2 linked regions of the Homo sapiens genome follow. Changing the gene in region 2 together with the main gene of any one other region gives a genetic interaction. Each region holds a gene or a part of one and is shown on either strand. Other genes may lie near its edges. The genes, in order: NR5A1 and PRKCZ.

Evidence for each region.
Region 1: changes in PRKCZ (region 2) and NR5A1 together harm fitness more than expected from each alone (negative genetic interaction), as found in Homo sapiens cells (one large-scale study listed by BioGRID).

What each region holds. Positions count from the first base shown.
Region 1 is NC_000009.12:124,500,846-124,504,654, reverse strand, and holds part of NR5A1 (steroidogenic factor 1), read left to right. Parts: intron 1-1,244; 5' UTR 1,245-1,259; coding exon 1,260-1,361; intron 1,362-1,434; coding exon 1,435-1,576; intron 1,577-3,809. UniProt on the Homo sapiens protein: Transcriptional activator. Essential for sexual differentiation and formation of the primary steroidogenic tissues. Binds to the Ad4 site found in the promoter region of steroidogenic P450 genes such as CYP11A, CYP11B and CYP21B.
Region 2 is NC_000001.11:2,144,215-2,148,023, reverse strand, and holds part of PRKCZ (protein kinase C zeta type), read right to left. Parts: coding exon 3,683-3,809; intron 2,638-3,682; exon of another isoform or gene 2,513-2,637; intron 1,998-2,512; coding exon 1,916-1,997; exon of another isoform or gene 1,719-1,915; intron 1-1,718. UniProt on the Homo sapiens protein: Calcium- and diacylglycerol-independent serine/threonine-protein kinase that functions in phosphatidylinositol 3-kinase (PI3K) pathway and mitogen-activated protein (MAP) kinase cascade, and is involved in NF-kappa-B activation, mitogenic signaling, cell proliferation, cell polarity, inflammatory response and maintenance of long-term potentiation (LTP).

The sequences.
Region 1 (3,809 bases), on a different chromosome or scaffold from region 2:
GTCGCGCCCCCTCTCGCGTCCCGGGCCCTGGCTCTTCGCGCTTCCCTCCTCCGGACTTCGCCTCTCCGCCCGAGGTCGCTCCCTCGCCTCGGGCTCGGCTTCCCGGAGCCCGCCGACCCCCGCCCGAGGTCTCCCCGCCCGACGTCCCGGTGGCAGCGGCGGCTCGGGCTGCGCCTCCCGTTGCCGTCGCTGCTGCGGCTTTGTCTCCCCCGGGGAGGGGGTCCCGGCGGCTCTGCGTTTTCGGGCTCTCGGTCCCGGCGCCGTCGTTTTCCGCCTCCTGCGGCCCGGGCCCCCGTCTGGGTCCGACCCTGCGGGGCCTCGCCTTGGCGCTTGGGCTCCTGCCCGGCAGGTTTCCGCGCGTCCCCTGTCCCCGACCCTCGGGCTGGGCGCTTCCGCCTCCAGGTTTTCTCTCCGTGTTTCTGTAGCTCCCCGGCCTCGTCTCTCCGGGGCTCCTCTCGTCTCGGCGTCTCTGTCTGTCGTCTATCGTTGTGTCTCTGGCTCTGCGTCAGTCTCTCTTGGGTTTTCTCTTCGGGCCTCCGCTGTCTCTCCGAGTCTCTGATCCAATCCCCCACCCCTCGTTTCTCTCTCTCTCTCTCTCTCTCGTCTCTCTCTCTCTCTCTCTCTCTCTCTGTCTCCCTGTCTCTCTCCATCCCTCCCTGTGTCTCGTCCCCGCCGGGTTCTCTCTAGCTGGGCGTCTCAGTGTCTGTGTCTCTGGCACTCTCGGACTGGCCTCGTGTCTGCGCCCGGTGGCGTCGGTCGTTGTCTCTCGCCAGAGTTTCTTCCCATCTCTGGCTCCCCCGGACTCTGTCTCTGCCTCCTTCGTCTCTGTCGGGTTCCCAGAACACCCGGGCCGGGCGCCCCAGCGCTCCTGGGTCCCCTGGCGTCTTCCCCGCGGCTGAGCCCATCTCTTTTTCTCAGAATCGGGGTTTTGTTCTCAGACAAACGAATCCCAATCGAAGCGCATCGAACCCGAGGGCCCCAGATCGGGCGCGACGGGGTCCGCGCGGGAGGAGCCCCCCGGACGGGGCGGGAGCGTGGGGCCTGGCAGGGGAAGGCCGGGCGCGGGGACTGCACCGGACCCACCCCGGGACGCTGCGCGGGGCGCTCGGTGGGTGCCGGCGGCAGCGCCTGGGCACAGAGAGGGGATTACGCGACGGGCCGGCGACAGCGGCTGGGGCGGCGGCCGCGGGGACCCCAGGCTGCCGGTCTCCGCCGGCCCTCCCTGACCCGCTGTCCCTCCGCAGGCGGACGCCGCGGGCATGGACTATTCGTACGACGAGGACCTGGACGAGCTGTGCCCCGTGTGCGGGGACAAGGTGTCCGGCTACCACTACGGACTGCTCACGTGTGAGAGCTGCAAGGTGAGCGGCGAGCGCGCGGCAGGGGTGCGGCAGACGGGCGCTGCGGGGCCTCGCTGACTCTCAGCTCCCGCAGGGCTTCTTCAAGCGCACGGTGCAGAACAACAAGCACTACACGTGCACCGAGAGCCAGAGCTGCAAGATCGACAAGACGCAGCGCAAGCGCTGTCCCTTCTGCCGCTTCCAGAAATGCCTGACGGTGGGGATGCGCCTGGAAGGTGCGCGCCGCGCGGGCCTCGACCCCTGACCCCCCACAGCCTGAGGGGGTAGGGGGTGGGGGTGGGAGAGGGGCTGAGGGGATAGTACCATTGGCCTTCGCGAAGGCCCCTCGTGCGACATTAGGGCCCAGTCGCTGCAAGAGAACCGGGCGCTGGCGCTGGGTGGGCCTCGGGCGGGGAAGGGACGCTGGCAAGGCCAGCCTGGGTTGGGCTGAGAAGTATCCAAAAGTGAACCCTATGGAGATGACTCTTTCCCCAGCCCCTGCCAGGGCCCCAGCACAGGGTCGGCAGAGCTCCTCCCTCTGTGAGGAGGTCCCCATGCCCCCAAAATACCCAACCCCAGCCAGCAGAGGCCAAGTCCCAGTGCCCGCACTGTCAGTCAGGCTGGGTGACATTGGGCAAAATCCTTAACCTCTCTAAACCGCAGATTTCCCATGTGAAACATGGGCTTGGCCGGATGGAGCGGCTCATGCCTGTAATTCCAGCATTTGGGAGGCTGAGGCAAGAGGATCACTTGAGCCCAGAAGTTTAAGACCAGCCTGGGCAACATGGAGAAACCTTGTATCTATAAAATATAAAAAAGTAGCTGGGCGTGGTGACATGTGCCTGTAGTCCTAGCTACTCAGGAGGCTGAGGTGGGGGGATCACTTGAGCCTGGAAAGTCGAGGCTGCAGTGAGCTATGATCACACCACTCCACTCCAGCCTGGGCGAGAGGGAAACCCTGTCTCAAAAAATAAGTACATAAAAATAAAAAAGAAAGAAAAGAAAAGGCAGAAAGAGAAAGAAAGAAAAGAAAAATGGGCTTAACGGCAGCGCCTTCCTCCAGTGAGTGAGTGTGGGGATCGGTGCAGGCAAGCTGAAGGTGCCTAGGCGTTCATTGCCGCAGGTTAGCTGTCAAGCCCATCACGCTTTCCATTAGGATCTGCCCACCACCACCGCCCAGCCCCCACACATTCAGCTGCCCATCTGCTTGTCTGTCCGTCCATCCAAAGGGCTCTCTGGTTTATTGGCTCAGCCAGTGAGATTCCTTCCCGTCATGTTCTTAGCCAGGCCCTGAGGGGGCCGGGCAGTGGGGGACAATTGAATTGCCCCCAAGAAACCCAGGCCCCTCTTTGCCTCCCTACCCTCAACCCCAGCTCTCAGCCCAGAGAGGAGGAGGTAAGTTTTGGCAGGAAAGATTTGAGCTTCTGGAGGTGGCCGGTCACTGGACTGTGTGCTGAACAGGCAGTGGTTGATTAAGGTCTTGGAACAGTGTAGAAAGCCCCAGGTGGCTCTGAGAGTGGTGGACCACATGCCCTGCCACCTGGAGAAAGGACTCCTGGATGGGAGAGGGGACATCCTGTCCTGTCCCCAGAGCCCATGCCCCTAGTGCCAGGTCCCAAGGGGCCAGATAGCTGGCTGTTGTGGGCAGTAGAAACTCCCGTGCAGCCTGCGAGCAGCACAGCGCTGCCCACCCCAGGGGGCAGGAAGATTGGCCAGGCAGCCCCCCAGCCATCATCCCTGCTGAGCACCACCACCCCCTCTCTCCTGCTCTTTCCCCTCGCCCAGATCCCAGGGTGGGGCCCTGTCTGAGCAGGGGCGGGGGGCACACTCCAGCTGCAGAGATGTACCTGTTGGGTCTGGCTGATGACACATTCCTCGCCAGGCGGAGGAGCTTCTAGTCGGCAAGAGAGGTCCCCTCCCCCAGCATAGAGCCTTGGCCAGCTCTAAACTTGGCTTCACATTCGCAGCCAGTGAAGGATACTTGAGTCATTTTGAAGCAGGAGCTCAACAGTCAGGCAGTCAGTCAACAAACAGCTGGACCCTGGGGCCAGCGGTGAACAAGGCTGACCAGGGTCCCCTTCCGGTCACCATCTCCCTGCCAGGCCTTATGCTAGACACCTGAGCCCAGAACTTAGCCCGCAGGAGCACATGGCATGATCCACTCAGCATGATAAGAGTGGGCAAGGACAGGGCACCTGGGGCAAGGACAGTAGAGCCCGTTTGCATGAATCCAGGAGTGCTTCCTGGAAGTAGTGACATTGAGGCTGGGTGTTCAGCAAGCACAAGAGAAAAAAAAAAGTTTGAGTCAGAAGGAAAATGAAAGGCAGGGTGGAGGAGGAAGGAGATGTGTCAAACAGAGGAGTGGAGGTGAGTTCGGTGGAGTGGAAGGAGAGGGGTCTTAGCAGGGATTGCCTGAAAAGCTGAGCAGGGCCTTGAATGCCAGGCAAAGGAGACTGACTTCCCCTGTGG
Region 2 (3,809 bases):
AGTGGACAATAGATGGATGGATAGATGGAGAGGTCAGTGGACAATAGATGGATAGATGGAGAGGTCAGTGGACAATAGATAGATGGATAGACGGAGAGGTCAGTGGACAACAGACGGAAAGATGGAGAGGTCAGTGGACTACAGACAGATGGGTGGACAGGTCAGTGGACAACAGATAGATGGACAGATGGAGACGTCAGTGGACAATAGATGGATGGATAGATGGAGAGGTCAGTGGACAATGGATGGATAGATGGAGAGGTCAGTGGACAGTGGATGGATAGATGGAGAGGTCAGTGGACAACAGACAGATGGGTGGACAGGTCAGTGGACAACAGATAGATGGACAGATGGAGACGTCAGTGGACAATAGATGGATGGATAGATGGAGAGGTCAGTGGACAATAGCTGGATAGATGGAAAGGTCAGTGGACAATAGACGGAAAGATGGAGAGGTCAGTGGACAACAGACAGATGGGTGGAGAGGTCAGTGGACAACAGATAGATGAACAGATGGAGACGTCAGTGGACAACAGATGTGTGGATAGATGGAGACGTCAGTGGACAAGATAGATGGATAGATGGAGAGGTCAGTGGACAACAGATAGATGGAAGGAGAGGTCAGTGAACAATAGATGGATAGATAGAGAGGTCAGTGGACAATAGATGGATAGATGGAGAGGTCAGTGGACAACAGATGGAAAGATGGAGAGGTCAGTGGACAACAGATAGATGGGTGGAGAGGTCAGTGGACAACAGACAGATGGATAGATGGAGACGTCAGTGGACAAAAGATGGATGGATAGATGGAGAGGTCAGTGGACAATAGACGGTTGGATGGAGAGGTCAGTGGACAATAGACGGATAGACGGAGAGGTCAGTGGACAATAGATGGATAGATGGAGAGGTCAGTGGACAATAGATACATGGATAGATGGAGAGGTCAGTGGACAACAGATGAACGAATGGAAGATAGCTGGAGGATGGGTGGGTGGAGGATGGCTGGCTGGCTGGCTGGATGACGAGATGGATGGATCGTGGATAGATGGATAGGTGGTGGATGGATGGAGAATGGGCGGGTGGAGGATGGCTGGTTGGCTGGATGAGGGCTGGTTGGTTGGCTAGGTGGGTGAATGGATGATGTACGGATGAATATCTGTATAGAGGATAGGTGGGTGGAGGAGCAGGTGGGCAGGCAGTTGTTTGTGAGGCATCTCTTTTGCGTGAGGCACTGTGTGAACTAAGTGCTTTATGTTCTGTGGTCTCATAAGTGCTTTATGTTCTGTGGTCTCCCAATGAGACAGAACTCACATGCATCAAGTGAAAGTGAGGCTCTCACACCCCCGTGCAGAGGTGCAGGTGTGGAGGCTCAAACCTGGGCTGTAAGTCCAACTGGTGTTTGAGATCTCTCTCTGAATGCTTCTTAGCAATAAAACAAGTCCTTCCCCACAACAAACAAAACCTCACAAAAATCCAAGGACCATGCCACTGCCACGCTGTGTGTGCAGCAGCCACCTCGCCAGGCTTTCCCCAGATAGGGCTCAGCTCTGTGCAGCAGCCAGATTGTGGGAGGTGCCCGGCCATGGTGGCTGCTGCACTAAGTGCCTTCGAGAACTCCCGGAGCTGGTTAGAGGAAGAGGCTCTGCACCCCTGGGCAACCACAACAGCACTTCACGGAGGCATCCCTGCCCAGCAGCCTCCAGGGAGGGCCAGCTCACCCTGCTCATCTCTGCCGGGGATTGAGAGGAGGCCCTGGAGAGCCTCATCCCCAGCCCCAGGGAAGGGTGGCCAGGCTTGAAGACAATGACCCCTGCAGAGCAGATGGGACTGAGAAAGGACTCGTGGCTAGAAGGCAGAGGTGAGCAGGGTGAGGTGATGCCCAGGCTCTACCCGGCCGGAAGAAAGCAGCGCCTACTTCCATCTGTCTCCTCGGAAGGAAGGTCGGCGTCCTCGTTCTTGTCGTCTACTGGAGGCTCTTGGGAAGGCATGACAGAATCCTGCCGGAGAGACACAGAGATGGCAGCATGACCAAGTGCTAGAGCAGGTGTTACAATGTAGCTTCTGTAAACACTTTGTGACTTTTTAAAATTAAGAACTTTTTTTTACAGACAGGGTCACAGTCTGTCATCATCCAGGCTGGAGAGCAGTGGCGCGATCACGGCTCACTGCAGCTTCAACCTCCTGAGCTCGAGCAATCCTCCCGCCTCAGCTTCCAGAGCAGCGGGCACTACAGGTGCGCACCACCATGCCTGGCTAATTTTTGTATTTTTTTTGTAGAGATGGGGTCTCACCATATTGCTCAGGCTGGTCTTGAACTCCTGGCCTCAAGTGATCTTCCCACCTTGGCCTCCCAAAGTGTTGGGATTACAGGTGTGAGCCTCTGCACCTGGCCACTTCAAGACTATTTATGATTTACATATTTACACATTACAATGGGTATACTGTAATATAGTATATAAAAATCTAATTGTTATGCTATTTTACTGAATTAGATAAAGAACATAAACATTACCTATGATTCTGCAGACGGAGGTGGCCACTCGGTACTGCAGGCCATGACCTTTCCACCAAGTGCTTTATACAACGGGATATTTTGCACAATGCTTGGTCATCTCCCCTGTCCCAAAGCTGCATCCTGTCAGTAACCAAGCATCAGGGGGCCATTCTAAGGGCCTCTGGGTTCCGCCTGCAGATATGTCATAATGGAGCCACCAGTACTGGTGGTCAGCTGGGTGGCAGGCTCTGGCCTCCCTCCGCCTCTAGCTGACCACATTTCTGGGGCCGGTCTCATTTGCTTACGCTAAAGTGGACCTATGAGGTCAAAGGGCATTACAGGCTTTTTGGCAGATGCAGCTGAAGGACCTCTGGAAGGACTGTGCCAACGCATGCACCAGCCTGCGTGGTCCCCCATCCCTGTGGCTGGTGATCCTGGGGTGACACCCTGATCCAGACTCTGTCTTTATCCCGTAACAGAGGAGAGGGCACGTCACTGCCACAGGCGCCTTTCCTCCCATGCCACAGCAAGATGCAGACAAGCCACCCTCCCCAGACACACCCACTGCACGCTGCAGCAGGGCCCAGGGAGTTGAATGTTCAGTCCAGGCCTCACCCCCGTGGTTCAGTGGGATGCAGGGGGCCACACGGAAATGCCAGAGGCAGCCTTCAATAAGCAAAAGTCAATAAGGCCCCCAAAGGCCTGGATGCTTCAAGTCCAAGCACTCGGGGATGGCGGAGGGAAGGTGCCGCCCTCATCACAGGCTGGGCATGGCTTCCCAGGGGGGATGCCAGGGAGAGGCTCCAGATGTTCGGAGCCTCAGCGTGCCCAATGCTACTAGGTCAGACCTGGCTTTCACCTCCACAGTCCTTAAGAGCTGGTTCAAGACTGGGGTATGAATGAACCTTACCTCCGACCCACTGAGCAGAGCGTACCACGTCCTACCTGAGCCTGCTGCCTGAGCCTCATGCCCCAATGAGCAGAGTGTGCCGGGGGCTTGTGGGGGCTCAGGAAGATGGGTCCTATCCAAGACTGCCGCCTGAGTCTCACGCTGCAGCCCAGAGCTAGGACGGCACCACGGCCCCTCTTGAAGAACCCAGGGTCACCAAGGTCTGCTTGGACAATGGGCTGGCTGCCACGCCCCGACCCCGCCCGTGCCCCCCGGGCCTCCCCAGCCCTGCCACTCACCATATGCTTCCTGCAGGTCAGCGGGACGAGGCCGTGGCAGCGCTTATGGACCAGCAGTTTGCAGTTGATGCACCTGTAGCCTTGCCTCGCGAGGCCCCATATCCTCTCGCTGCACTGACCGCAGTAC